Linked DNA regions of Homo sapiens: regions 2, 3 and 4 are each reported to be linked to region 1. The links are microRNA targets in miRTarBase. Many come from high-throughput screens and were not tested one by one. Region 1 holds a microRNA gene; each other region holds the end of a gene's coding sequence.
Evidence for each region. The annotated mature microRNA hsa-miR-615-3p reads UCCGAGCCUGGGUCUCCCUCUU and lies in region 1 at 4,864-4,885, opposite strand. An mRNA with a match to its seed (bases 2 to 7 or 8) in the 3' UTR can be bound and repressed. Matches are read on the target gene's strand: a 7mer-m8 pairs with bases 2 to 8, a 7mer-A1 pairs with bases 2 to 7 and ends in A, and an 8mer does both.

Region 2: miRTarBase lists RAPGEF2 as a target of hsa-miR-615-3p. The part of its 3' UTR that is shown has no 7-base or 8-base seed match.
Region 3: the mRNA of NUDT16 is a reported target of hsa-miR-615-3p. The part of its 3' UTR that is shown has no 7-base or 8-base seed match.
Region 4: miRTarBase lists DCAF12 as a target of hsa-miR-615-3p. The part of its 3' UTR that is shown has no 7-base or 8-base seed match.

Annotation. Positions count from the first base shown.
Region 1 is chr12:54,031,777-54,038,894 of GRCh38, reverse strand. It overlaps MIR615 (microRNA 615), which reads right to left and starts at 4,945; the gene lies at 4,850-4,945. It overlaps HOXC5 (homeobox C5), which reads right to left and starts at 5,845. Exons shown (of 2, transcript NM_018953.4): 1 at 5,319-5,845; 2 at 3,534-4,617. The coding sequence starts at 5,772. The coding sequence ends at 4,403. It also overlaps a transcript of HOXC4 not described here. RefSeq lists a silencer at 4,747-4,806 and enhancers at 4,890-6,041, 6,036-6,330.
Region 2 is chr4:159,356,793-159,363,910 of GRCh38, forward strand. It overlaps RAPGEF2 (Rap guanine nucleotide exchange factor 2), which reads left to right. Exons shown (of 30, transcript NM_001394067.2): 30 at 1,322-3,381. The coding sequence ends at 1,347. Among named protein-coding and RNA genes, the nearest start is that of MIR3688-1, 230 kb to the left of the region's middle.
Region 3 is chr3:131,382,072-131,389,189 of GRCh38, forward strand. NUDT16 (nudix hydrolase 16) reads left to right here. Exons shown (of 3, transcript NM_152395.3): 2 at 1-244; 3 at 1,091-6,759. The coding sequence ends at 1,270. Among named protein-coding and RNA genes, the nearest start is that of NUDT16, 3.9 kb to the left of the region's middle. RefSeq lists enhancers at 1-142, 143-711.
Region 4 is chr9:34,082,090-34,089,207 of GRCh38, reverse strand. DCAF12 (DDB1 and CUL4 associated factor 12) reads left to right here. Exons shown (of 9, transcript NM_015397.4): 9 at 700-2,821. The coding sequence ends at 858. Among named protein-coding and RNA genes, the nearest start is that of UBAP2, 37 kb to the right of the region's middle.

The sequences.
Region 1 (7,118 bases):
TTGGGCCCTGCTAGCTCCATCCCCGAGGGGCTACTCTGTCCTTAAGGTTGGGGGACTTACTTTCCCAGCCTAGCAAAGACATTGCCTCTGCTCCCTCACCCATTCAACACACAATTACACTCCACTCACAGCAGGAACCTCTAGGGCTCTTAGAGCCTAGTTTTATCTCAGGCAAGGGCTGGGAATGCCAGGAAGACCCAAGCAGCTAGAAGGAGAGGAGGAAGCATGAAACCACACTGGCTTCAGACGGACTAAGATGCCAAACTACGGAGGCTGAGACAGCTGCCCATCCAAGCCTGGTAGTGAGGGAGGGAGGGGGCACTCTGGGACCTCTGGGTTCAAACAGCCACCTTTGAGATACTTTTGCCAGTTCAGGCAGCAGTAGCCTGTGGGCGTAGAAGCCACAAAACCCTCCTTCCCTGCCTTTCTCCCCAGTTTCCCACCTTGGGCCACTGGCCAAGGGCTGAACTCACCCCTCCCTGGAACAGTGGGCCCCAGAGGCATTTTGAGCTTGTGTCTAGAGTTTACATACCCGTACAGACACCAAACACCCTTGTTGCTGCCGCTTGCTTTCTTCTCAACTGAAAGGGTCAGGAAGACCTGGCAAATCTCTAAACAACCAAGGCCTCTCTACCCCAGTTGACTTGCAGTCAGAGAGAATAAGGAGTGGGAAGGGGAGGGCTGCTCAGGGTAGACAAGCTCCCCCATCTTCCTACTTCCCAGCAGCTTTTTCTGCTGCTTCTTCTCTTCTCCCACCCCAGCCTGGGAAGGCCTTTTCCCCCTCCCCCTAATAAGTGGGAGCTGCCTTCTATCAAGTGAGGGGGGTGGTTAGGTAAATGGGAGAAAGGGTCTGAGAGAGAGAAAGAGAGAATTAACTCACAGCGTTCGCCTGGGATTCATTTGCGAAGATGTAACCTCTCTCACCATCGTCCCCAGCGCCGTAATCCCCTCTAACTGCCAGGCCCTCTGTCCTAGCATTAAACCTCACCAGCAGCTGCGTGGCTGGACAGTTAAGATTATATATGATGTAAATATATTGTGGGTTTGTCAGCTCTCCCTACACCATAAAACTTGGTTTAATGATATCACGTGGTCCCCCAAGAGCCACTCACGGGCTTGCCTTCAGGCTATTCACATAAATAACCTCCAAAAGTTTCAAACTCCTAAATTCACATAGAAGCATGCCTATTTCTCTAATGCTCAGTTACACTAAAAAGCCCTGGTGCTGTTCCTTTGCCCCACCCCCACATCCCCCTTGCAGGGTGGAGAGGGGGGAGAGGGTGGATCCTTATTTATTTATTTACTTACTTATTTCCATAAGGACCTGTCGCCTTCGAGGTCGTGTTGATCTTTTTGTCCTCTTATTTTTTCCTCCTCTTTCCTCTAATTGCTCAGAGTGGGCCGTGTCCCCCCTCTTCCCACTCCCCCGGGAAGGTAAGTCATGCTTCTTCCCCTTCTTTCTTGCTGCCAGAGGGGGTGGGTTCCAGGGCAAAGTGGAGAGGCAGGCTCCATAGTCTCTGCTTGCAACCCAGAAGACCCCTCCATAAACTCCCCCAGAGCAATGCCAGACCCTGTTACCTGGAAATATGTTCTAGGAGGCTGGCTGGTGGGGAAACTACCCCAGGCCCCAAAGCAGAAGCCCCTGTTCAGGGAGAAATCAGGGATCTGGGCCTTATGCACCCTCAGCGTAGGGAAGTAGGTACGAGGCCTCTGGCTTGGTTGCCGCCGCTGACTCCCGACGATGCTGCAGAAGCCAAGGCTGGTGCCTGGGCAGACCTGCAGATTGTGACAGGAAGGAGGAGGGCAGGCAGGCACTCTGTGTCTACCCAAGCCAAAATGAGTCAGACCTTCAGCTCCTCCAGGGAAGGAGAGGCCCAAACCCTGCCGGGAGGAGGCAGTCAGTGCACGGTGGGGCTGGTGTGCCCTGCCTGGCAGCTCTAACCAACATTGCCCCTATCTATGACAAAGCCCTTGGTTTTCCCCTGGGGTGGTGCGCCTGTCCCCTGGGGAGGAAGCACAGGGCCTGGGCAGCCTGGGAGGCTGGAACAGGTGGGTGCGGGTGCCACAGCCTCTTTCTTAGTTAACTGTTACCCACCGGAGACGCCAGTGCTTCTCCACGCTTCACTGCTCACTCAATAGTTTTACTCAGCATGGAGAAAAAATTAAAATAACTCCCTGAAGAAAATTACACATTTTATTTCAGAGAGAGAGAGAGAGAGCACTGGTCTGGGTTAACTGCTGTGTGCAAGTTGAGGAGAGACAACAGGCGCCCTAACCTGGCCTGAGTGCAGTGCGAAGGGGAAGGGTGGTAGTTGTGGGCACTGTTCAATAAGCATTTGTTGAGACTGCCTATGTGCCAAGCATGGGGTGAGGAAAGGCTCTTGGGTCTTTTAAAAAATGACTGATGGGTAGCTTAGGCAGTGGGATGCAGCGAAGTTAGTCCTTATAATAAATCCAAGGAGCATCAGCATTAATAATCATAAATATTCCCCTGCCCCTCCCCAGAGCCCCTCTGCTCCCCTTTCTTCTTGGCTGCTGGTGCAATCCCTTAGCCAAGCTCCAGACCCTCACCCCACCAGTGTGGGGGGCCTAGGCTTGGCTCCAGGAAATCACCCTGTTGTGGGAGGTGGGAGAGGAAATGCAGTAAAGTTTTATGGACCCTTCCCACATTTGTTTCTACTGTAAAGTGCTTCCTCCCCCAGCCCATCCCAGGAGCCTGGAGAAGGACCTGATCCTCAGACACTACCTGAATTATCTGCCTCCTCCCACCCCCACTTTTAACCCATCCTCCCCTCCACACAAAATCCCAGAGACTGAGATAAATGATGGCAGACAGACGTGACTCCAGCACTGGTCTATGCAGCTCCTTTCCCAGTTAATTGTCCTGCATAGCCCGAGGCCCTAGAAGGTGGTGGAAACAGTCTGAACATTTCCTGCCAGGCTGATACACACTGCAGATTGTCCTCCCTGCTCCCTCTTCCCCAGTATCTTAGATACTGAGGCACACCTCCTCCAACTCTCCCAACACCCCCTTACCAAGCAATACCACCTCCCTCTAGAGGCCCTTATGAGACCAAATGGGTCCCTAGAGTGAGGGCTCAGCCCTCCCTCTATGTCCAGCAAGGCCTCTCAGGGACCACCTAGGCCCAGGAAAGATCTTCAGAGGCCCAGAAGGTCCTAAGGCTGAGCACGGTGGAGCCACTGGTTCCTGCACCGCAGCTTTGGCACACAGTGGGGGCTGCTGCCAGTCCAGAGGCCTCCTGGAGTGCAGAGGCGTGAAGGCCTTGGACAGCCACAGCATGGGAAAAGCCAGTACTCGAGGCCTAGGTGCCCTTCTCTTCCCCCAGAGGCTCTTGTTGCAGCCAAGGAACAGGAAAGGAGCTCAATTTCACCTCCCTCTACTCACTGCCCCTAGAAGCTAGAAAATTTTTTAAAGGGGTGGCTTAAAGTTTGTGGGTCTCCTTCTACATCTCACAGCCCATTTAGACAATTTTACCCAATACATGCCCCAAACAGACAGGAGCCACTGCATCTTTAGTCCTGTTCTCTCTTTATTTGATATGACAAAATATAGTTTCAGGAAGGACCCAGAGTCAATAAATAGTTGGACAACAGCAATGGGTCAGGAGGGCACAGAAATTCGTGGCAGGGACTATGGGACAGCAAAGGGCCTCTAGGACCACTTGCTGGGGTCCAGTGCCAGGAAACCCCACTAGTTGAGCTAGCTAGCAGGCTGGGGCTGCCGGCCTGAGAGGGCATGCAGCAGGCGCAGGCTGGGGAGGTTCCCGGGTTTTGGGGGGAAGAGGTTGTGGAGATAAGGTTTGGAAAGCATAGAGCAACTGTGGGGGCCCTAGGCCGATGCTCTCCTTTCATATGCAAATCATTCATAAGTGAAAATCTAGTTTAGTCGCTACAAGGAAGCACCCCGAGTCTAGGGCCAGACTCTCGCCAGCCTTTGGCTGTCTAACCCGTCCAGCCGGGAACAAAGGAGAGGGCGAGGTTAGAGGGTCCGGCGAGGGTCCTGTGGCGCGGGCCGGGCCCACCTTAACTCGGGAGGGCCGCGCTGAGGCTGGGAGCCGGAGATACGGCCCAGGCCAAGGTTCGTTCTGCGCCAGCCTGTACGCCGCAGCCCTCCGGGGAAGTCCTGCGGAGCTTGCCCTGGGCCCCGGGTACCGAGCTGAGCCGAGCTGAGGGGAGATGGGGCAGCGCCGACAGCCCCGCGGGAACCCTGGGTCGGTAGGGATGCGGAATGCCAAGGAAAAGCGCTTTTGTCTGTGGGGCCCGGGAGCCCAGTGCTCCAGCACCTGCCCCCGACCCGAAATATAGAGAGGAAAGGCGAAAAGGAAAGGCGCAGGGACAGGAACCGGCTAGGGGCGCGCTCTGCGGGCCTCCCCCGCTGCCTCTAAAGAGCCTCTTTGCTTTTCATTTTGGAATCTTTCTTCCACTTCATCCTGCGGTTCTGGAACCAGATCTTGATCTGTCTCTCATTGAGACACAAGTTGTTGGCGATCTCTATGCGCCTGCGGCGAGTGAGGTAGCGGTTAAAGTGGAATTCTTTCTCGAGTTCCAGAGTCTGGTAGCGCGTGTAACTGGTTCGGGACCGCTTGCCGTCCGTCTCTGGAACATAAACCCCACCCCAAGCCAGGAAGGGGTGAATAGCTTGCAGCGTTCCCCCGTCCCCACCCCAGCCCAGGCCCCCACCCGCGGCCGGAGGGAGAGGAGGCGAGAGCCGCAAGACAGGCCACGCGGGCCGCAGGCGGGCCAGCCCAGCCCAGCCCCGGGAGAGGCGCCTCCGCCCAGGCAGGAAACTTTCCACCGCAGCCTTCACTCTGCAGCCGGAGGGGCTGAGGGGGGGTTGGGGGGAAGAGGGAGACCCAGGCTCGGACCGAACAATAAGCACCCTCGAGATCCGAGCACCGGGGACCCCCCTCCCGCCCCTCCCGAGTCGCTGGAATCCTCCGGAGCCGCAAGCGCCGGCGGAGCCGGCTCCGCAGGGGAGGGAGGGAGGGAGCCGCGGGGGGATCCCCGCTCTGGAGCCCCGCGCTCCTCACCCTTCAGATCCCTCTATTTTTTTAACTCCCTCCCTCTCCCCCAAAAATTGAATATTGCCTTTTATACACGTTTTGTTCCTATGATCCAATTATGTCGTCGTAAATTTGGGCGCACACAGCCTCTAAGCCTTTTAGTGGACAGTTTTACGAGCCATTGATGCCTGGATCGTAAAATTTATGGCCGCAGGTTTTTTTTCTTTATTTGCCCCGCATGGCCTATAAAACCCAGGCGGACCCGAGAGCGCAAAATGAAGTCCTAAAGTTTACCGTGGCTCATGTGCAGTTTGGTCATCCACGGGTAAATCTGTGGCGGGGCCGGTGGCTGGCTCAGTCCGGCGGGCTGCCCTGTCTGCGCCTGCTCCTCTTTGATCTCCCCACTGCTCTTAGCTCGCTCCTCCAGCGCCGGGCGAGCCGCCTTCTGACTGTACATCCCGGGGTTCAGAGGAGCCGCTTCGTCTCTGCCCGGAGCGTGTCCCGGAGCGGCCGCGGCGCTGCAGGCGGGGCGGTCGGGGTGAGCCCGGGGGTTGGCAGCCATGTCTACCCCGTGGAGAGAGTTGGAAGGCGCAGGCGGTGGGAAAGTGATGCTTAAGTCCAATCCGCCGTAGCAGTACCTGGATGCCTGCACCTCTGAGGCCGATCCATAGTTCCCACAAGTTTGCATGTTATAGGCAGGGATATTGGGGCTCTGCTTATAGAATGAATTGGCTACGTAGGAGCTCATGGCGGGGAGGGCCCAAAAAAATTTCTGCACCCTTTTTGATTAAGGGTGATTTGTGACTCTTTGAAGTTGAGGGGTTTTTTGTTCTCCAAAGTGGACAATTTATAGGTGGAGATATCTCTTTCTTTATCCTATGCGCTCTTCCCAAATAAGGGAGCCTTAAATAGAGTCACGTGACTCGAGCGGCCACTCATAAATTTGGCTTGATGACCTCCGGGAGGTTAGTGATGGAAGCCGGCGAAAAGCATCTCGATATGTTGGCAAAGCCCAACCAAGGGGGAGAGGGAGTGAGAGAGAGAAAGAGGGAAGGGGGAGGGAAAAAAAAAAAAAGGTTCTTGGAATTGGGGGTAGCCGGGACAACAAGCCCACAGCGACACCTGGTGCCTATGTGGGGGAATTGCATCCTGGAGCGCCAGCTTGCTTTCCGGTGGCTGGATTTCCTACACTGTGAAGGAGAAGCTGGTTGTTGGGGCAACCCCTGAGCTAGCCTTTTAAATTCTATTTAAAATTGGGAAAAGACGAGGCCCCACTTATAACGCACAGAGTGCTTTTTGTAATGAAAGTCCCGTTCTCCCAACCTCCAGGGTCTTCCAATCTTCAAAAATGGCTGAGGAAAGGGGATTAAGTTAGGTAAGGTGGCCTATGCCCAGGCTGGAGAACCAATGGGGTTTAACTTAGGTTCCCTAAACCAAAGGTAGAAGTCCCTTGCCTCTCAGGCCCTAAGGCTCCACTACTGCTGAAGAGGTGCCTATCAGCAAGAGAAAGTAGAATTAGCTTCTGAAGAGGTAGACAGGACGCCCAGGAGGAGGGATCCTGAGTGGTCAGAACAAGATAGGGGGGTCATGAAGCTGAGGGTGTTGCAGGCTGTTTGGGATGGATCTGGAGGTGAGGAGCCAGGTGGAGTTGGCTAGACCTCACCATGCTAGGGTCCCCAGAGTGGCAACAAGGCAATTTTCAAGTGTGTGTGTGGACACGGACAGAGCCAGACAATGGTCTAGAGGACTGCTCTGTTTCCCTGTGTGCGATCCTTATGTGGTACCTATGCCAGAGGTTTTAGACAGAAAATAGATGTTAATTGAGGACATGGAGAAGCAAGATTGAAGCCTCCACAAATATTACGTGAGCATGGCAGAGGAAAAGGCCCGTTATGTGCCCTTTGGGGAAAAGGTCTCTGGGCTAGGCTTTCCAGGGACCTGAATCCATAAGGTTCACAAGAGAGCAATTTCTGAGCTACCAAGAGGAATGGGGCGGACCTGGGGGGTGGGCAGGGCAGGCGCCTGGGTAGCCTTCGCAGGGTATCTGCAGCCATTCGGCCCCATCCTCTTCCCCCGTAGCCCCAAGTCTCATAC
Region 2 (7,118 bases), not on the chromosome of region 1:
CGGGAGGCTGAGGCAGGAGAACCACTTGAGCCCGGAAGGCAGAGGTTGCAGTGAGCCAACAACATGTCACTGCACTCCAGCCTGGGTGACAGAGTGAGACTCTGTCTCAAAAAAAGGAAAAGAAAATGAAAATTTCACAAGTTTGTGCTGTTGTCAAGAATTTTAGAAGCATGTAGGATTCTCAAAGGTGGATGGTTAAAGTTTTCTGTGGAAACATTATATTTGCGCTTTTAATGAATTGGGACTCATTTGGAAATGAAAGTCTGATAAAGAAAGATACATTATCAGCCAGCCTGATGGCTCATGCCTGTAATCCCAGCACTTTGGGAGGCTGAGGTGGGAGGATTGCTTGAGGCCAGGAGTTCGAGACAAGCCTGGGCAACATAGTGAGACCTGTCTCCATAAAAATATTTTTCAAATGACCCAGGCGTGGTGGCGTGTGCCAATAGTCCTAGCTACTATGGAGGCTGAAGTGGAAGGATCACTTGAGCCCAGGAGTTCAGGGCTGTGGTGACCCATGATTGTGCCACTGCACCGTAGCCTAGGTAGCAGAGCAAGACCCGGTCTCTAAAAGAAAGAGAGAGAGAAGGGGAGGGAGAAAGGGAAGGAAGGAAGGAACCCACATTCTTTATAACTCTTTGTGCGTTCTTTCTACAAATCTATCTGACCATGCTGAATTGAGAATGAGGAAGGAGAACATGGCCTCCCATCTTCTTTAAAGTTTTCAGTTTAACATGTTTGATTACACAATCATAGAAAAAAGCAACACGTGACTGGGAGATTGGGAGGCCGAGGCAGGAGAATCGCTTGAGCCCGGGAGGCGGAGGTTGCAGTGAGCCGAGAACACTGCACTGTGGATGGCAAACCCACACCCTGTCTCAAAAAAGTTAAATTAAATTAAATAAATAGAAAAACATTACAAATGAAAATTACTTAAAATCCTGTCACTTGCAGATAGCCACTATTAAAATGTTGTTATATATTCTAGACTTTTTATGTGTATCTGATCGTATATTTTTTTTAAATGGCACATGCTATTTTACAACTTTTTAAAATGAATTTAACAACTTTCTGAACAAAAATATATAATGCATATCTTTTTAATATTGTGTGTATATATGTAAAGATATGTATTGCATACATTTTAACCTTTTTGTTGTTCGTCATTGTTTAGGAAAAAAAGACAAGGATTCTAAGTGAGCTATACTAAAAAGAATAACTATGATAGTTTTATTTAGCACATCAGTGAATATATTCTCTATAGCACAAGAAATTACTTGCTTGCTCATTGATTTCTTTTTCTTCCCTGCTGTATTTGCAGAAGATGAACAAGTTTCTGCTGTTTGAGGCACAGACTTTTCTGGAAGCAGAGCGAGCCACCTGAAAGGAGAGCACAAGAAGACGTCCTGAGCATTGGAGCCTTGGAACTCACATTCTGAGGACGGTGGACCAGTTTGCCTCCTTCCCTGCCTTAAAAGCAGCATGGGGCTTCTTCTCCCCTTCTTCCTTTCCCCTTTGCATGTGAAATACTGTGAAGAAATTGCCCTGGCACTTTTCAGACTTTGTTGCTTGAAATGCACAGTGCAGCAATCTTCGAGCTCCCACTGTTGCTGCCTGCCACATCACACAGTATCATTCCAAATTCCAAGATCATCACAACAAGATGATTCACTCTGGCTGCACTTCTCAATGCCTGGAAGGATTTTTTTTAATCTTCCTTTTAGATTTCAATCCAGTCCTAGCACTTGATCTCATTGGGATAATGAGAAAAGCTAGCCATTGAACTACTTGGGGCCTTTAACCCACCAAGGAAGACAAAGAAAAACAATGAAATCCTTTGAGTACAGTGCTTGTCCACTTGTTTACAATGTCCTCCTTTTAAAAAAAAAAAATGAGTTTAAAGATTTTGTTCAGAGAGTAAATATATATCCATTTAATGATTACAGTATTATTTTAAACCTTAAGTAGGGTTGCCAGCCTGGTTTCTGAAAAACCAAATATGCCGGACAGGGTGTGGCCACACCAAGAAGACGGGAAGACCTGGCTTGTGACCCTGGCTTCCCATGTCCTTCTGGTCTCACCCGCGAAGTGCCCTATCCTGGAAGTATGAAATGTTAGCCAATTAATACCAAGACACCTCATCTGCTCCTTCCCCAGTGGATGGGGTTCTTCTGTAAAACTGTTTGCACATGGCCAGGGGAGGGAACTAGGACCCTTGTGTCCTGTCTGAGCCTTATGGAGGCAGGACGGTGTCATTGGCGGATGTGTCCTGCTCCATTGAGATGGATGGCAAACCCCATTTTTAAGTTATATTTCTTTGATTTTTGTTAATTTAGAGGTGTAGGTTTTGTTTTTTGTTTTTTTGTTTTTTTTTAAGAGAAACATTTATAACTGGATAGCATTGCAGTGAAAGCAGCTTGGGATGTTGGAGCTAATGCCAGCTGTTTATACTGCTCTTTCAAGACAGCCTCCCTTTATTGAATTGGCATTAGGGAATAAACAAGCCTTTAAACGTGATAAAAGATCAAAAACCTGGTTAGACATGCCAGCCTTTGCAAGGCAGGTTAGTCACCAAAGACTAACCTCCAAGTGGCTTTATGGACGCTGCATATAGAGAAGGCCTAAGTGTAGCAACCATCTGCTCACAGCTGCTATTAACCCTATAATGACTGAAATGACCCCTCCACTCTATTTTTGTGTTGTTTTGCACAGACTCCGGAAAAGTGAAGGCTGCCAATCTGAGTAGTACTCAAATGTGAGGAACTGCTGGTCTTGGATTTTTTTTCCATTAAATTCAGCTGATCATATTGATCAGTAGATAAACGTAAATAGCTTCAAATTTTAAAAGTGGAATTGCAGTGTTTTTTCACTGTATCAAACAATGTCAGTGCTTTATTTAATAATTCTCTTCTGTATCATGGCATTTGTCTACTTGCTTATTACATTGTCAATTATGCATTTGTAATTTTACATGTAATATGCATTATTTGCCAGTTTTATTATATAGGCTATGGACCTCATGTGCATATAGAAAGACAGAAATCTAGCTCTACCACAAGTTGCACAAATGTTATCTAAGCATTAAGTAATTGTAGAACATAGGACTGCTAATCTCAGTTCGCTCTGTGATGTCAAGTGCAGAATGTACAATTAACTGGTGATTTCCTCATACTTTTGATACTACTTGTACCTGTATGTCTTTTAGAAAGACATTGGTGGAGTCTGTATCCCTTTTGTATTTTTAATACAATAATTGTACATATTGGTTATATTTTTGTTGAAGATGGTAGAAATGTACTATGTTTATGCTTCTACATCCAGTTTGTACAAGCTGGAAAATAAATAAATATAACATAAAGCCTTGCCTATATTCTTAATGAATCATGCATGCTTTTTATTATTAAATTGGAATAGAAGCCTTTCGTCTCCTGCAGAAGCAAGTCCTTCGGCTGGAGAGATTTAGCCTCATGGTTATTGGAAACTGCCCAATAGCCTATTTATTTTAGGCAGATCTCTGTTGATCCAAAGCAATTAATATCATTAACGTTAGCACCAGCCAAACCATGTTCAGAATTCAGTGTTTCTTGAAAATGAAGATGCTGTCACAATATATTTGCATAACATTTGTCTCTTCTCAACCGTTTCCAACAATAATCTTTATGGTACGTAATATTTTGGTTCCCAGTATACATACTGAGAGACAGGACCTCAGAGAAACTGACATTCAAGGTCATGATTATTAAGTGGAGAGTACAATTTAGCTAGTGATTCTGGACTTCTAACTAGTACACAATATGAGTGCTGATGTGTGGTAAGTCTGAATAATACTTTAGTCTATCAGAAGGGCACTTAATTTTAAAAGGTAAAAACCAGTAAGTAGCAGCCTGCTTACGCACATGTTTAAATGAGTGACTCATTTCTTTTCCTCAAGCAAGCATAACTAAAAGTATTAGCCATCAGCCACTGAGAAGTCTCAGAAGTCAGAGTGGAAGCAACTGGAAGCAGAGGCACCAAACACTGGAACATGTGAGGGAGCCTGAAGAGGAGCGGGAGGAAGGTCCCTCCAGAAGCTAACAGGAAAATGGCCAGGGCTAGGCTTCAAGATCTTTCCAAGGTATTCGTGCCAGCTATTTTGCTGAGAAATTTTGAAAACCTGGACACCAAAATAGTCGGGAAAATTATTTATTTATTTATTTATTTATTTATTTTTTAACCATTCTAGTAGCTTCAACCACACCTTTTAAAAAATGAAGAACCTGCGTGTTTGTGTATGTTGTTACATGCTCATCTCTGTTGTCTTTTCACTTTAAAACCCATTCCTCAGGGACTTTCCTAGACTGTCACTCAGCTTAATTTTCTCAAACTTTTTTTGAAAAAATACTAAGAATCTGATGTTTTGGAGAATAACCTCTTTATCATTACTGTGTGTGTTCTGCTAAAAATATGAGACAGTGACAAATAGGGCATGGTTCGTTTTCCTTTTAGGTTTTATTAGACTTTTATGTTTTAGGATACTTCCTCCGTGTAGCACAAGACTGGTCTCCACTTAAGGGTTTCCAGAAATAAGTATTTGCCAAGTGTAACAGTTTGCAGGGACAGAGTTTATGTTATGTTAATAATAGAACTTTGCCAAGTTTTAGGGATATTGTAGAAGGTTTTGGTGAAGGTCTGATGCTCTCCACCCTAATCAAAGAGGCCACACAGACCGGGGTCTGTGTTTTCATACATACAGGTTGAAGTCCTCAGAATGTTTTTCTCAGCCTCAATCCATTTCTCTGCTTTTGGGAGGTATAGATTTTATGCTCATCTATGATTTAATATGTTTTACCTTTAGTTCACTGATAATATCCCAAAATGAATAATGCAAGCTTCTGAGGATGCATGTATCAACACACCTTTTGGTCTCTGCCTCTCAACGCCAGTGCACTACATTCATGCCAAAGAAAAATAGGAAACTCTCTTGAGCGCTTTATCCCATGATACCAGCATTCTTTAAAAAAAAAAAAAAAAAAGGCTTACCTAGAGAATAAACGTAATGCAGCAACTGAGGAGTCAAGTTGTTGATTGCAGAGGTAAATTATTTTGTGAAGATTCACTAAGGGTATAATATCAGCAGAGGTTGTTGAAAGGGGCAATAAGACGGAAATGTGTAAGGCAAACTGCAGCTGAGGCCAACATGACACTTTCAAGAAAGATTTTAAAGTGAGAATTTACCTATTTGAGAGTGAGACGAAAATACTGACTGGAACTGAAAAATAATTTATGAATTGCCTTTTTTTTTGAGACAGAGTCTCACTCTGTTATCCAGGCTGGAGTGCAGTGGCGCAATCTCAGCTCCACCTCCTGGGTTCAAGCGATTCTCCTGCCTCAGCCTCCTAAGTAGCTGGGACTACAGACGTGCACCACCACACCCGGCTAATTTTTGTGTTTTTAGTAGAGACGGGGTTTCACCATGTTGGCCAGGCTGGTCTTAAACTCCTGACCTCAAGTGATCCACCCGCCTTGGCCTCCCAAAGTGCTGAGATTACAAGCGTGAGCCACTGTGCCCGGCCTGAGTTGCATTTTTTAAAAGATTCACATTTTAGCCAAGTACAAGGCAAGCTAGTTGTTACTATGCCATAGCCATATACCAGAAAATTTTATAGAGGCAATCACGACATTCCATGCAAGGTTAAGAAATGCCAGAAAAGACTTTATTTCATGGGCAATCAAGATGGTAACAATTCTTATGGGAAAAATGTCTAAGCCTAGAATAAAATATCTGAAATAAATTGAGTCAAATGACCAGCTTTATAAAGACTGAAAGTGAAATCAACTTAATTCAGAGTGTTCAACACCTCAAAAATAGAAGTAAGTTTAATACAATTTAAGAAACTTTTGGCCAGGAACAGTGGGTCATACCTGTAATCTCAGCATTATGGGAGGCTGAGGCAAGAGGGATTGCTTGGTGCCAGGAATTCAAGAACCAGCCCAGGCAACAAAGCAAGACCCTATCTCTACAAAAAATAAAAAATACAGCCAGTTGTAAGGGTGTGCACCTGTAGTCCTAGCTTCTCAGGAGGCTAAAGTAGGAGGATCACTTAAGCCCAGGAGTTCAAGGCTGCAGTGATCTATGATGATGCCACTGCACTCCAGCCTGGGCAACAGGACAAGACTCTGTCTCAGAAAAGAAACATTTTAATAATATTGTATGACCTTGCCAAATGCACTGTGGTCAAATGGGGACCAATGAAGTAATAGTATCTCAACATACGTGAGGTTTTCTTTAATTTATATAGATTGAAACCTTTTTCCCCAAATAGGACTACAAAATTGGTTTTAGGATCAGGTGAGTGTCACATTTGGTATTAAGATGAAAATATGTATATGTACAATGCTTCTAGATACAGTTTAGTGAGCTAATTTACTGTGGTCCAAGCACTTTTCTAGATGCTAGATATTTACAGATTTTACTAAAGTGAACCGAGGCACCTTCGAGTTATACTTTCTTACTTTAGAGAAGTGTCTCAGGCCCTACATGGAAAAACCTACGGAGTGATCCCACCATCTTGATCACAGCTGGATTGAAGGAGGTGTCTGATCCAAGAGTTGCCAATGTGGGCTCACCAGCAGTCTGTAAGAGGGCCCTGGAATGAGTGCCGTGACCAGCCAGTAAGAAGGAAAGCAACAACTAACAACCTTAGCACATTCTCTTTGGGGAATTTCTATGAAAAGGCAAAAAAAAAGGACGCACCAAAGAAGTGAGTATTCAGAAGCCGTGACTAACAGAAGCAATGAGGATGCAGAAATCATGAGCAAGAAGGGGCCCATGAGGTCAAGAAAGCAATTCATCAAAGGCAGGAATCCTGTTAAAAACTTAAGACACTTCTTAGGGAACAATAAAATGATCTGTCATCATCACACCTGAATACAATGTCCAGTCTTAGAACAACTCCCTGAAGCTTGGCTCTGAAATGTTCTTGTTCTTCATGAGACCAGCATGGAGAGCTGTTTTTTGTGTATCCTCTCTGAATAACCATTCTGTTCTCAGCATCTAGAAACAGTGCCTGGGATAATGCCAAAGTGTTTAATAAATGAATATCATATCAAGCAACCTAAAGGACCTCAATTACACAGGT
Region 3 (7,118 bases), not on the chromosome of region 1:
GGGCTTCCCCGGCGGATTCGTGGACACGCAGGACAGAAGCCTAGAGGACGGGCTGAACCGCGAGCTGCGCGAGGAGCTGGGCGAAGCGGCTGCCGCTTTCCGCGTGGAGCGCACTGACTACCGCAGCTCCCACGTCGGGTCAGGGCCACGCGTTGTGGCCCACTTCTATGCCAAGCGTCTGACGCTCGAGGAGCTGTTGGCTGTGGAGGCCGGCGCAACACGCGCCAAGGACCACGGGCTGGAGGTGGGACCAGCCTGGGACTCTGTCCCTTTCCCAATTTCCTCTTCTCCCAAAGCTTTCTCTCCCCCAAGAAAGCATCCCTGGAGAAAAGTCTTTGCCCCTCTGACCTTGCCCTCTCCCCAGCTTTCTTGGTGGAGTTGGGATCGTGATCATCTATACTCTGAATTAGTACTGCCAACCTGGGCTTTCTGTAAAGGTCTTTCCCACCCTTTACCAGGAGAGATCCTTTCTAGAACACACTCATCCATGTCTCTCTGCTGTTCCCTATTGACAGTGTGATAGATTATCACATTATCTAGGTGTGGCAACCTAGGTTTTATTCTTGGGGTTTGCTTTTCTTGTGTAGGAGATGTGGCCCTGATATTTCAGGCAGGGCTAGTAGATAGATTATGTATGAAGGTGGTTCTCAAAATTTGGCAGGTAGCAGAATCATCGGGGCGTCTTATTAAAATAGCGATTTCTCTCAGCATTCCTGCATTGGTGGTGGGGCGGGGGGAGAGGAAACCTGAGAATTTGTAGTTTTCAAAAGTTCCCAAATAATGCTGATGCAAATAATCTGAGGACCACATTTTGACAACCACTGGTGAAAGGGTATGAATACATCTTTGAGGCAGTAGCCACTAGAGGTTTAGAAGCAGATGTGGGAAAGATTAATTGATAGAGCTAGATAATATGTTTTGGGTCATTTTCCTGCAGAAGGTTGGGCCACTAGGCTTTAGTGAGGTGTGAGCCTTGGGCCTGGTTCTGCTGGAGTATTAAGGGGTGAGGCCTGATCTGCTGGAGAAAGGATGGAGTTAAGGGAATGAGCCACCTGGGGCCCTAGTGTCTCCTGTCTCCTTCCTTTTACAGGTGCTGGGCCTGGTGCGAGTGCCCCTGTATACCCTGCGGGATGGTGTAGGAGGCCTGCCTACCTTCCTGGAGAATTCCTTTATTGGCTCTGCGCGGGAGCAGTTACTTGAAGCTCTCCAGGACTTGGGACTGCTGCAGTCTGGCTCTATTTCAGGCCTTAAGATTCCAGCTCATCACTAGAGGCAGCCCTCCATGGACCCATGAAAACTGAGATGAGGACCTTGGTACTAGGGAGGGAGGGAAGGACGTGGGAATGTTTTCTTATTGGATCTGAGAGATGATACATGATACCAGATGAAAAGAAGGAGAAGTGTGTACCATATGTTTTGAGCAGAGGACCCTCCAACTTATGGCATCAGGGGCAAAAAGTCACAGCTTATCCCAGGCACCCTGGCAGGTTCTCAGAGCCTGCCTCCTCCCTGTTTATATGCGTACAGCCTGGTAACCCCCAGGCATGCAAATATACAATCTGTAACAACACACAGCCTGACACCTTCCCCTGGTCATGTCCAGTTTAACCTTGAAGTGGCATTTGTCACACTACCCTGGTCCCTGATTGCAAGGAGCTTCTGAAGCAAGGGTGAATCCTTCCCACACTCCTCCATGGTTGCCCTCCAGGGTCTAGCCCAGCCTATTTGTTAGGGAGGATAGAGAAACAGAGCACCCCCTGTGCTTTCTGAAAATAGACTTGCTCTTGTCTTGAGTGGTGACCAAAGCAGTTGGCTCTTAAAAGGTGGGAGAGCAGCCCAACCAATCCCCAATCCTTTTCTTCTGAAACTGAGCAGGAAGGGTAAGGAAGTGGCTAGGTCTCCTTGGACTGAGCATGGACATGAGTCCTGTGAGGACTGGTGTCTCTCCTCTAGAGCTTTCATCTTTGGGATGCCTGAGACTCCGAGACTATCAGAAGGGAATTGACCCACCCCAGTCTAGCACCACCCTGCCTTCACTTCATCTACATAAAGGTGGTATAAAAACATAGACTGGAGGAGGTAATCCATGGAGAGAGAAAAAGAAGAGGGCTCAGGACAAGGCCCTGAGGAGGCCCAATCCTAAAAGTTTGGGCAGAGGGAACCAGGCACGTTAAAGAAGACAGAAAGCGGACTATGCAGAGTGCTTGTGAGGGTTTCACTAAAACAGAGGCAAAACTGTCCATTGAATTCAGTAACATGAAGTGTTTGATGACTATGATGGCAGCAGTTTCAGGAAGGGCGGTATGGAAGGCAGGCTGTACTGGTTGAGTGAATGGAAAGTTGGGGAGTAGAACGTGTGAGAAGTTGGCCTTCAAGGGGCTCAGGTTAATAATAGAGAGCTATGGAGTCAAGGCATGTTTAAGATGGGAGGTAGAGCATGCCAATATTGATGGCAACAGTCAAGATGGTGTGATGAGAGAGATGGGAGGGGCACAAAGAGGAGGACCCCTGAAGGAGCAGAGTCCATGAGAAAGAAGGAGGGATGGGACCTTTGTAGGAAGAGACACAGTCCTGCAGCCTCATATGGCTCAATAAAACAGAAAGGGGCAAGTATAGAAGATTAGGATGACTAAATTAATGGGGAAATGATGAAGGAGTTTGAATCTCTTCTTTGTGAAATGAAGTGAGACTATCAGCTAGTTGTGGGTGGAGTGTGTTCTCAGAAGGTATGAAGTAGATGTTTTCCTAGGTGTTGGAAAACAGGTTGATTAAGGCAACAGCAGAAGGGCAGGGCAAGGCTGAGCTCTGAGATGGTCAGTTTAGAGTAGGATGCTGGGCACTCAGGTGTGTGTGTGTTGAGTGGGGCTCTGCACACACCTGTCTTCCCCTCATCAGGATTCAGGAGCTGGGATGGGTACACTTACTGCAGTGTTGGGGTTTTGCCAGGGAAGTAAAAGGAGTTGAGAGAAAGATGGGTCAGTTCAGAAGACATACACAGGAGAAATTGTAGTGATGAAATGTGCAGTCTAAGGTTTAATCTGACCAAGAAATTGGAATTGAAAACAGGAGGTGACTAGGGAGGGATTAGGAAATTAGAGGTCTTGACAAGATAGAAACTCCAGCATGGTGAGGGGTTGGGCAGGGAGGTATATTTGAGCCAGACAGGAGTGCTTTGGAAATTGAGAGGTGGAGCAATCTCAGGTAAAGGCAAAATAGAGGGTATGACCTGGGGTTGCTGGCCAGAGCCAGGGAGGAGCCTTAAGAAGTGAAATCTAGGGTTGGCGAGGCTGGAGGGCAGGGTGAGCCTCCACATGGGTGCTGAAGCAAGAAACCGACAGATGTTGAGGAGAATGGTGTGACCTAGGAGTCAGCATCCTTGGTGAACAAGAGGAGTGGCCACAAGGCCAGTGGCACCTGCCAGAGGGGAAAGCAGGCATGACAGGATAGCATCTCCCAGGTGAGAGCCTTTTGAGGAAGGGAGGGTGGGCAGTGGTCTGGAAGCTTGATGCAGAGCAGTGTGGGTCCCACTGGCAGCCCTTGGTCTTAGAAGAATGGGAGTACCCAGTGGGGGAGCAGCTGTACAATGAGGTAGACTCCTAGAGGTTAATTATCATCTCCTAATCTTACCCTGACCCTTTTGTCAAACGTTATCTAGATTAAACCTCAGTATAGGCAGGCTGCAGGAAATGGACATTCCAGTGGCCCCTGGGGTTCCAGCCTGTAGCAGCTTCATCTGTGCTTTGTGCACTTGGTTCTCAGTCATCTCTGCAAGGGACCCTGACGCCTGGGAGATCAGAGCCACTGACCCTTTATGGCACTGCTAACAGACCCCTTCCCTCAGGTAATTCTGGATCCAGAACTCATTATGGGATGTAATCCAGGTCAACACTAATACCACTTGGAAGGTTCCGCTCTGTCTCACTCTGCTTGAGTATCCCACTGATCAGTCTCTCAGTGCCTGCCTACTGGGCAGCTCATCTGTCCACTTATTCGTATTAAATTTGCTTTTTATTTAGGTCTCTGGAGATGGTTGCGTGGGGAAGAGCCCATGACTTTCCTATATGATCCCTTGAACATACTCTCCAAGTCAGTAGATTACCTCTCAGGCAGCCTTCATAAAAGTGTTTCACTGTACTGGGGTTTGTGTTCATCTCACTCACATAGACAGTCTCTGGGTAGGCAGGTGGGGGGTGATACAAGTTCACACTCTGTGTTTCTCCTCCTGTTAGCCATTCCCACCCTGCTGATGTTTAAGGAAAGCCAGGGATGATGACCCACTTAAGCTTTCCTTGGCCTTGTTAAGTCCAATCATCTGGGGCAGGAAGAAGAGAAATGCTCATTGCAATCTTTGACCCCCACTAACTGCTGTGGTGACTTTGACCCAAGCCCTTGACCTCCTTTTCCTTATCTGAAATGTTGCTGTGATTCCTGTGGTGAGATCAGATGAGGCAGCACTTGGGATAAGCTTGCAGAGATGCATTGAGCGGTATGAAAGTACAGGATGCTATGTACTTTCCTGCTTCACAGCACATTTTGTTTCTTGCAAGGTGAGTGGCCCAGCCGCCTCTCCACAAACACGTGTTTCTGCCTTTCTCAGCATAATCAGCAAGATGTTCCCACTTCTCAGCATTGCACTTTTCTGCTGGTGCAGAATAAAAACACTTTGAGCCCCACCCTGTCCTGAGACAAAGTCCTCTGTGGTCACTTGGCATATGGCAAAGCTGCTGCTGTGGGCTGGAACATTTGAGGCAACAGTGACTTCCTCCTTTCCTAGTTACCGGAACCCTTAGAGCTGGGAGCCGGCCAGTGAAACAGACAAGGGGAGGGGAAGAGAAGAGGGAAGGCATGTTTCCTATATGAGTTTCAGTTTGTTGCACAGAAATGTTTTTGAAACCTTTATCTCCAATAGAATCACAAACGGGTGTCAGAGAGTCAAAACTAGAGGAAAAAGTTTAGTCTGTAAACAAATCATTAGATGGCATCAGAATTTGAACCAAAGTAAAAGATGCTGGACCTTGGCACTTATCAGAGAAGTATAGAAGAGCCAGGTAGGGGATTTTATTTACAACATGTTCAATTCTGAGGAAGAGGAGTATGGGCAGGGCAGAGGAAAAAGGAAAAATGGGAAACCCCCATGGACTTAGGGCCCCCACAAAGAGAAACCATGTGCCTTCTCCCCACTTCCCTTCTGGCTTGGGCAAATGAGGCTCCCTTTAGGGGTAGAGGTACTCTACAGGGGCTATGTTCCCTTTAGGGGTAGAGGTAGTCTACAGGGGCCAGCTGGGCAGAGATGAAATCTTGCAAAGGAACCCTTCTTACACTCGAAAAGCAAGAATAGCAAAGGGACTTTGGGAAGGACATAAAACAAGAAAAGGAAGCTCCTCACCAACAGCTCCCAGATGGAGGGAGTTTGTGTGTCTAGCATTTTCACCAAAGTGCTGCTCATCCTGATGCACAGATGCAGATTGGAGCTGCTGCCTGTGCCCTCACCATGGGTATGTACCCACCACAGGCATTCCCAGGTGATGCGGGGGCAGAGGATTCCCTCTTTCCACTCAGGATAACAACCCCTCGATGGGGTTTTCAACAAGTATAGAAAGCTCCTGGACTCAGCCAAGACCCTCACCTACAGTCCCAGTCCTCCCACCTTCTTCAGGTCTCTAGAAGACAGAACTGATGGGTTTACAACATCCTATTATCCAGCACTAGTCCTAGGTTGTGGATGTAGGGAAAGGCCAGGTAAACAAGGAAGGGAGAACAGGTGAATGACCCCAATTGTTTGAAACCAAAAGAGCAGAATTGCCCCTAATTGATTTAAGTAAACAGCAAGTAACATAGGTCTGTTAAATAGAAGAGGATGTGAGCACCAGATGCACGTGATAAAGACCATGCTCTGGAAGATTCATTCCAAGGAGTAGAAGTGGTATTTACTCAGGGCATTTAAGGAGAGCAGGGACTCTGAAATGAGGTGAGAGAAAAGATAAGACATGCAGGAACAGCTGGCAACACCAAGAAAGAATTTAAGGAGAGGGATCTCTCTGTTAGAGAACTTAACATTACCCTAGGAACAGCAAGAGCATCATCAGCCCCAGGAAAATCTACCTCTGATATGGAGACCAGGCTTAAGAAAATCCCCTAGAACCCAGAGAAAAAGTGCAAAACAAGGAAAATGGCCAAAGAGAATATCATAGATACAGAGATCAGACAATGAGAATCCAGAGTCTTGTTAAGTGATAGAAGGAAAATACTAACAGAACACATGTAACAGGAACAACATTTTAGAGGAAACAGGACAAAAACTTCCCTAAACTCAAGATACTACACCAGAAGTGGGCAGTACTCACTATGTTCAGGGGAACAAAAAGATAAAAACTAAAAAGCATCAGACTGTTTTTTGTGTGAAGGAAATTTGTAAGGTAGGAGAATTAGGTCACTTACTACAGCACAAATTGCATGTCTATCTAAATTGACGTTTAAGTGCAAAAGCATGGATATTACTCATGCAGTTTTACTGGAAAACCATACAGATGTTTTTCAGGAATGTACAGAATGAATCAAAGGAAATAACTGATCGACAGGAAAACTGTAGGAAATTTGTGGGCTGGCTGTGAGGCAGTGGCTCCTATTATGTACAATTTTAGTGCTAAGTACTGTGTTAATGATGGCTATCAAACAATATGTTAACATCTGAAAGGAAATATGTATATTGAGCATAATAAATATTTTATAAATAACAATAAATCATTTGATTTTATGCTAGTTCCCAGGTTCTCACTTATTTTAGTAAAAGTGAGTAGTGAGGAGGGAGAAAGAAGCATAAAAATGTGATTCTGCTGAGGAAATTAGCAGGATTTGATTTCTGAAAACGGTAAGACTCGTGAAATTTTACTATTTCAAAGTACATACCAAAACAATATGATTCTGGCTGAATATGAAAAGATGAGAAAGAATGCCAGGGAATTACAGTAAAAAAGTAAGAGATCATCATAATATTAATATCAAAGGCACTAGAATTCTTTAATTGATCAAGAGATTATCCACAATAATCACATAATCACCAACAATTTCAGATTATATACAGCAAAGTCTATTAGAAATTAAGAAAATAGTATTAATTA
Region 4 (7,118 bases), not on the chromosome of region 1:
GGTTGACTTAGGATTTTCCCCAAGGTGTAATAGAGCAAGAAGGATAAGGGACCTCCCACCACAGCTGTCAGTGAATTTTTTTTTTTTTTTTTTTTTTGAGACAGGGTCACTCTGTTGCCCAGGCTGGAGTGTAGTGGTGTGATCATAGCTTACTGTATGTAGCCTTGAACTCCTGGGCTCAAGCAGTCCTCCTGCCTCAGCCTCCCAAGTAGCTGGGACCACAGGCATATGCACTGTGCCCGGCTAATTTATTTTTTTTTAGTAGAGATGGGGTCTCGCCATGTTGCCCAGGCTGGTCTCAAACTCCTGGGCTCAAGTGATTCTCTCACCTTGGCCTCCTAAAATTCTGGGATTACAGCCATGAACCACTGCGCCCCACCTCCAGTGAATTATTCAAGTGTTTGGTTCTTCCTCCTGTGCCTAGCAGGTGGAGGGAAAACAGAACTTTGGTTCTAAGTCTCCTGAGAAGAACTGAGCCTTGTATAGCAATTCTTCAGCTGCTCCGTTCTTCTCTAACGTTTAGTTGGAAAAATGAGGCCCTGATTCCCATGAGAACCAACCAGCCAATCTCCTGACATGAGGTTGTACCTGTAGAACCCTGTTCCCTTAAGGAGACCAGAAAGCATTCCTGTCCCTTCCTCCCCCTTTTCCTGCCCCATGGCTAGAGGTGCTAATTGTAGTCTCTTTCTCTTCCCGTAGAATCATGATGAAACCTGGAGGAATTACTTTTCAGACATTGACTTCTTCCCCAATGCTGTTTACACCCACTGCTACGACTCGTCTGGAACGAAACTCTTTGTGGCAGGAGGTCCCCTCCCTTCAGGGCTCCATGGAAACTATGCTGGGCTCTGGAGTTAATGACAACTCCCCAAATGCAGAGATTTACACTAACTTCCATTCTCAGTTTCCTTGTTTCTTTTGATTTTTTTTTTCCTAATTGTGTGAGGCTCTTGTGTTTTAGTGGGAACACCAAAGTTTGCCTATAGTTTAGGCACTTAATAGGAAGAAGCTCTGTACAGAAATCTGAAAGTTGTTTTGCTTTTTGTTTTCCCCTTTGGTAATCAAAATTTTACTATCTTTTATTATTTCTGGCTTTTCAACCAAACATTGTTGCTAATCCCTATTTTTCTTTAAGTGACACACATTCTCCTGTCTCTGGCTTCTTCAGGCTGAAATGACATAGCTCACCCTTACTTCACTCTTGAGAGGTAGGGCTCCTTTATAATTACATGGTTGCTCTCAGACTTTCTGTGAAAGTTTGGGAGCTGTGTGTGTCTGTGTGTGTGTGAGAGAGAGATCTTGTCTGCGTGTGTGTGTGTGATCTTGTGTGCCTGTAGGTACTGTGTGTCACTGAAATTACCTGGAGTGAGGATTACTTGTAATTAAAATATTTATAAAAGAAACAACTTTATTCACAGAGTCCAGCTTTGGGACTAGTCTGTATCTTGTTTTTTAAGTCTAACAACACTGATAATAGGAAGTAAAAACAGAAAGGAAAAGAAATTACCACTGGGAAAATCTTTTTAGTTAGATTGTAGGCTTCCTGGGGCCTCCCATGCCAGGACTGCAAAGTGATCCAGCCCTACCTGTCTTCCCACCTGTGTGTCCCCCGTGTGGGAAGTTGGTGTCACTTCCCCTTCCCACCCTCACATCTGCTTAGCCAGTAGCCACACCCCTAAAACATCAGACTCACCATCCAGGTGCAGCTCCAGAGGCTACAAAAGGCTTCATGGGACTTGAATCCCCATCCTAGCTTCTCTCTCCTTCCCCTCAAGACCTGATCTGGTTTTAAGGGGCCTGGAGCTGGGAGTCTCAAGTCTGCTAAGATTCACATCCATAGCCCCCATGGCTTTGAGGAGAATCCTCTCTGCCATTCTTCCAATCTCCCCAGTGGGTTTTGCTATTATTTTCTAAATTGGGTTAAGTCTAAGAAGGTGGGGGTGAGCAGGGGGTTTATCTGTGTGTAGTGAGTGCTTCATGTGTGGAATATTCATTTTCTTACTGCAGTGGGACTTGGGGTTGAAGCCACCCCTCCTACTCTGTTGGCTTAGCCCTGAGATGGTGACAGGCTGGCCTGCAGTCAGCATCATTGTGCATGTGACAGCATCAATGTGATTAGTAATTTGTCTGTTCCTCCCTTGAACTGTCTGTTTAGTCTGAGGTTTTTAAACTTGCAGGCAGCTGACTGTGATGTCCACTTGTTCCCTGATTTTTACACATCATGTCAAAGATAACAGCTGTTCCCACCCACCAGTTCCTCTAAGCACATACTCTGCTTTTCTGTCAACATCCCATTTTGGGGAAAGGAAAAGTCATATTTATTCCTGCACCCCAGTTTTTTAACTTGTTCTCCCAGTTGTCCCCCTCTTCTCTGGGTGTAAGAAGGGAAATTGGAAAAAAAATTATATATATATTCTCCTTTTAATGGTGGGGGGCTACTGGAGAGGAGAGACAGCAAGTCCACCCTAACTTGTTACACAGCACATACCACAGGTTCTGGAATTCTCATCTTCGAACCTAGAGAAATAGGTGCTATAAACAGGGAATTAAGCAAAATGCTGGATGCTATAGATCTTTTAATTGTCTTAATTTTTTTTCTATTATTAAACTACAGGCTGTAGATTTCTTAGTTCTCACAGAACTTCTATCATTTTAAACTGACTTGTATATTTAAAAAAAAAATCTTCAGTAGGATGTTTTGTACTATTGCTAGACCCTCTTCTGTAATGGGTAATGCGTTTGATTGTTTGAGATTTTCTGTTTTTAAAAATGTAGCACTTGACTTTTTGCCAAGGAAAAAAATAAAAATTATTCCAGTGCACAATGGTGTGAGTGAGTATTGTGTAGCCAGGAGCCTGCCAAAAAGGCCCCACATGACTAGTTGGAAGGTTGGCTTGAGCTGTTGGGATTGCTTGTGGCAGAAGGGGAACACAAGCCATTACCTCCAGGTTAGAGGCAGGTCAAGTGCAGGCACAAATACTAAGACCTGCTTGCTCTGGGTCCCCAACTCTAGCCCAAGATGAGTTGCTCTGAGGTCCAGCTGAGGGTGGATATGCCCAGGGTACTGAAGTAGTGTGACGTTACTTCTGTTACATAAGTAAGGGTTGGTAATAGGCCCTGTCTGCTTGGATGGTGCCCTGAGAATGACGCTGAAAGTGCTTGCATAGTACTCTGGGAATAGGATATTAATTTTTGTTTTTTGTAGTTGGAACCATAGACCTTCACTGCCCTTTGTAAGGGGAAGACACAGTGACCACAGTGAGTGATGCTCTTCTAGAGCCTATTTGGAGCTGTAGCTGAGAGAAACTGCCAAATCATACCACCCTTCCTCACACAGTCATCTCTGGGAAACCCACCAGGGCTAGGCCGCAGAGCCTGGCAAGGCCGTCCCTATTCTTCTGCCACATGGTACTTGTTCTTTCCAGGGCAAGCTGGACACAGCTGCTCTATGCACCTGCCTTAGAGACTGACTGGTTCAGAACATGACACATGGGTTCCTATATGATCAAAGGCTGCAAGACAGGAAGGGGAGATGAGTAAGTTAAAGCAATTTGAGAGGGCTCCCCAGAGGAGACGAGTTACATTTGGAAAGGGCTGAAACTAGCCTTTCCCAAAATGAATTTAGAAGGTATTTGTAAAATCTTCATTGTCAGCCGGGTGCAGTGGCTCACACCTGTAATCCCAGCACTTTGGGAGGCCCAGGTGGGTGGATCACCTGAGGTCAGGAGTTTGAGACCAGCCCAGCCAACATGGTGAAACCCCATCTCTACCAAAAATACAAAAATTAGCTGGGCGTGTTGGCGGGTGCCTGTAATCCCAGCTATTGGGAGGCTGAGGCAGGAGAATTGCTTGTACCTGGGAGGCAGAGGTTGCAGTGAGCCGAGATTGTGCCACTACACTCCAGCCTGGGCAACAGAGTGAGACTCCATCTCCAAACAAAATATATTGTCAAATCATTTTTGGGAAATGCAGATTAGAACAAAAGCAGCTTCATTCCTTTACCATCAGGTTTTTTTATTTTTAAAAATTGGAAAGGAGAGCTTTATTTCTCAAAGGGTTGCAGTCTGCAGGGTGGCCATTCTGACAGTCTGGGAAGTACAGCCTCTGGCCAGAAGTCAGAAACACAAACTGAGGGAGGGGCAAAGGGGACAGGAATTTATGTTGAACAAGGTGGCTGAATATATGTATTTAATAAGCTATAGGAGGAGTCATGAATATTTATAAAAGGAAAAAGGTACACATGTGCAACTGAACTCTTAGGTTTTTGGTATTTTACTATGGGACTTGTTCCATAGAACATGCTCACAAAGAAAGGTGACTTAGGGAATGTGGGGTTGACTTGGTCTAGGCCTCTGGCCTCCATGGAATCTTGGCCTTGCTCCCACTTTCCAGCCAGACTTTCCAGCAAAGCATGTATCACAGAAGGGCTTTGTGGGCTTTATGGGGTCCCTTTTTAGCCAGCAGTCCCTACTCCCTTCTGTGAAAGAACTTCTTGTTCTCTCTCAGGCACTTCTTGTTCTGTCTCAGGCCGCATGCCACATGCCTTATTCCAAATAGTCTGCTGGCTCCTCATCCTTTGGGTCCTTCTACAGGAGGCTTTGTAGCTGAACTGAATTCTTAGCCCTTCATGACTTGTTTATGCTCCAAGTCCCTGGTCCCCTGCCAACTCTAATTGATTATTGATCTGGCCCTGTGTTCCTAATAAAACTAAAGACTGCCCGCAGTCCAGGCCACTCTGATCCAGCTGCCATTCCTCGTGCAGATACCCAGAAATAGCAAGTCAGGATGTCCATACCTGTATCAGCACCAGGGATCAATCTTTTAGGAGTTAGCCTACGATCCAAGTGTTTTTGTTCTGCTTTTCAGTTGCTGGTATCTAGAAGACAACAATGAGGAGTGGGGGGTGGACAGGAGAAGGAATCACTCAGTGTTATTTGCTTCATGCTAGTTCATTCATATCTTTCTTCACGCTAGTGTGCTGAGATAACTGAAATGTTTGGGAGGATGGAAACATAGGCTGCTAATTCTGAAACCAGTGATGAAGACAATAAATTGCTCAGGTTTCTTAGCTTGGTTCTGCCCTTAGCTCCTCCAAAGAAGAATCCAATGAAAGAAATGTGAGACATAGGAATACTACCACTGGAGAGAAAGGTGTGAACTGAACTCAAGATGGAGATGGAGTTGTGAGCTCTTTTATGATTCCACTCTCCAAGAGAGGTGTGGACTATCCTCTATCAGAATCCCCCTGGGTTGGGCCTCACATCTGAACACTCTTCTTGATTAGTGTGGAACTGCCGAAGTCAGGATTTTTAAGGCATAATAATACTATTTAACAGTACTCAGGCCGTGTGCAGTGGCTCACACCTATAATCCTGGCACTTTAGGAAGCCGAGGCAGGCAGATCACGAGGTCAGAAGATCGAGACCATCCTGGCCAACATGGTGAAACCCTGTCTCTACTAAAAATACAAAAAATTAGCTGGGTGTGGTGGCTCGTGCCTGTAATCCCAGCTACTCTGGAGGCTGAGGCAGGAGAATCGCTTGAACCCAGGAGTTAGAGGTTGCAGTGAGTCGAGATCACGCCACTGCACTTCAGCCTGGCAACAGAGAGAGACTCCGTCTCGAAAAAAAAAAGTGCTCATAGTCACATGTTTACTATGCTTCTTGTTAAGCTGTAAGGTGTATTCAGAGCTATAATTAACATTGCTAGCGCTATGGACAGGAAGAAAACAGATGATCAACTCATACCTTAAAATAAACTGAGCTGGGTGCAGTGGCTTACACCTGTAATCCCAACACTTTGGGAGGCTGGGGTGGATTGCCTGAAGCCAGGAATTTGAGACCAATCTGGCCAACATAGTGAGACCCCATTTCTACACATAATTAATTAGCCTTGCATGGTGATGCCCACCTATAGTCCCAGGTACTTGGGAGGCAGAGACAGGAAGATCACGTGAGCCCAGGAGTTTAAGGCTGCAGCGCGCCAGGATTGTGCCACTGCACTCCAGCCTGGGCAACAGAGCAGGACCCTGTCTCAAAAAAAAAAAAAAAAAGAAAGAAACTGGCCAGGCGCAGTGGCTCATGCCTGTAATCCCAGCACTTTGGGAGGCCAAGGCAGAAAGATTGCATGATACTAGGAGCTCAAGATCAGCCTGGGCAATATAGCAAGACCTGGTCTCTACACAAAATTGAAAACTTAGCCAGGCATGATGGTGCACAGGAAGACTGTTTGAGCCCAGGAGTTTGAGGCTGCTGTGAACTATGATTGCGCCACTGCACTCCAACCTGGGTGACAGAGCAAGACCCTGTCTCAAAAAATAATAATAGGCTAGGCGTGGCTGCTCACACCTGTAATCCCAGCACTTTGGGAGGCCGAGGTGGGCAGATCATCTGAGGTCAGGAGTTTGAGACCAGCCTGGCCAACATGGCGAAACCCCACCTCTACCAAAAAATACAAAAATTAGCCGGGCGTGGTGGTGTGCTCCTATAATCTCAGCTACTCAGGAAGCTGAGGCAAGAGAATCGCTTGAACCCAGGAGGCAGAGGTTGCAGAAAGCCGAGACCACACCATTGCACTCCAGCCTGGGCAACAGAGTGAGACTCCGTCTCAAAAAAAAAATTCTCCCCTTGGGCCTCGAGAAAGAGCATTGCATGAGATTGGCGTCTTGTTTTCAGAGTTCTGGACTCCAAAACTATGAGAGAATGACTCTGTTGTTTTAAAACCCACCAAGTTAGGCTGGGCACAGTGGCTCATGCCTCTAATCCCAGCACTCTGGGAGGCTGAGGCGGGTGGATCGCCTGAGCTCAGGAGTTCGAGACCAGCCTGACCAATATGGTGAAACCCCGTCTCTACTAAAAATACAAAAAATTGGCCGGGCGTAGTGGCATGCACCTATAGTCCCAACTACTCGGGAGGCTGAGGCAGGAGAATTGCTTGAACCTGAGAGATGGAGGTTGCAGTGAGCTGAGATCGTGCCACTGCACTCCAGCCTAGGCGACAGAGCAAGGCTCCGTCTCAAAAAAAACAACAAAAAACAACCCACCAAGTTTGTGGTAATTTAGAAGTATTCTGAGGAATTTTTAGATACCAATTTTTGTAAAATCACACTAGATCAAAGG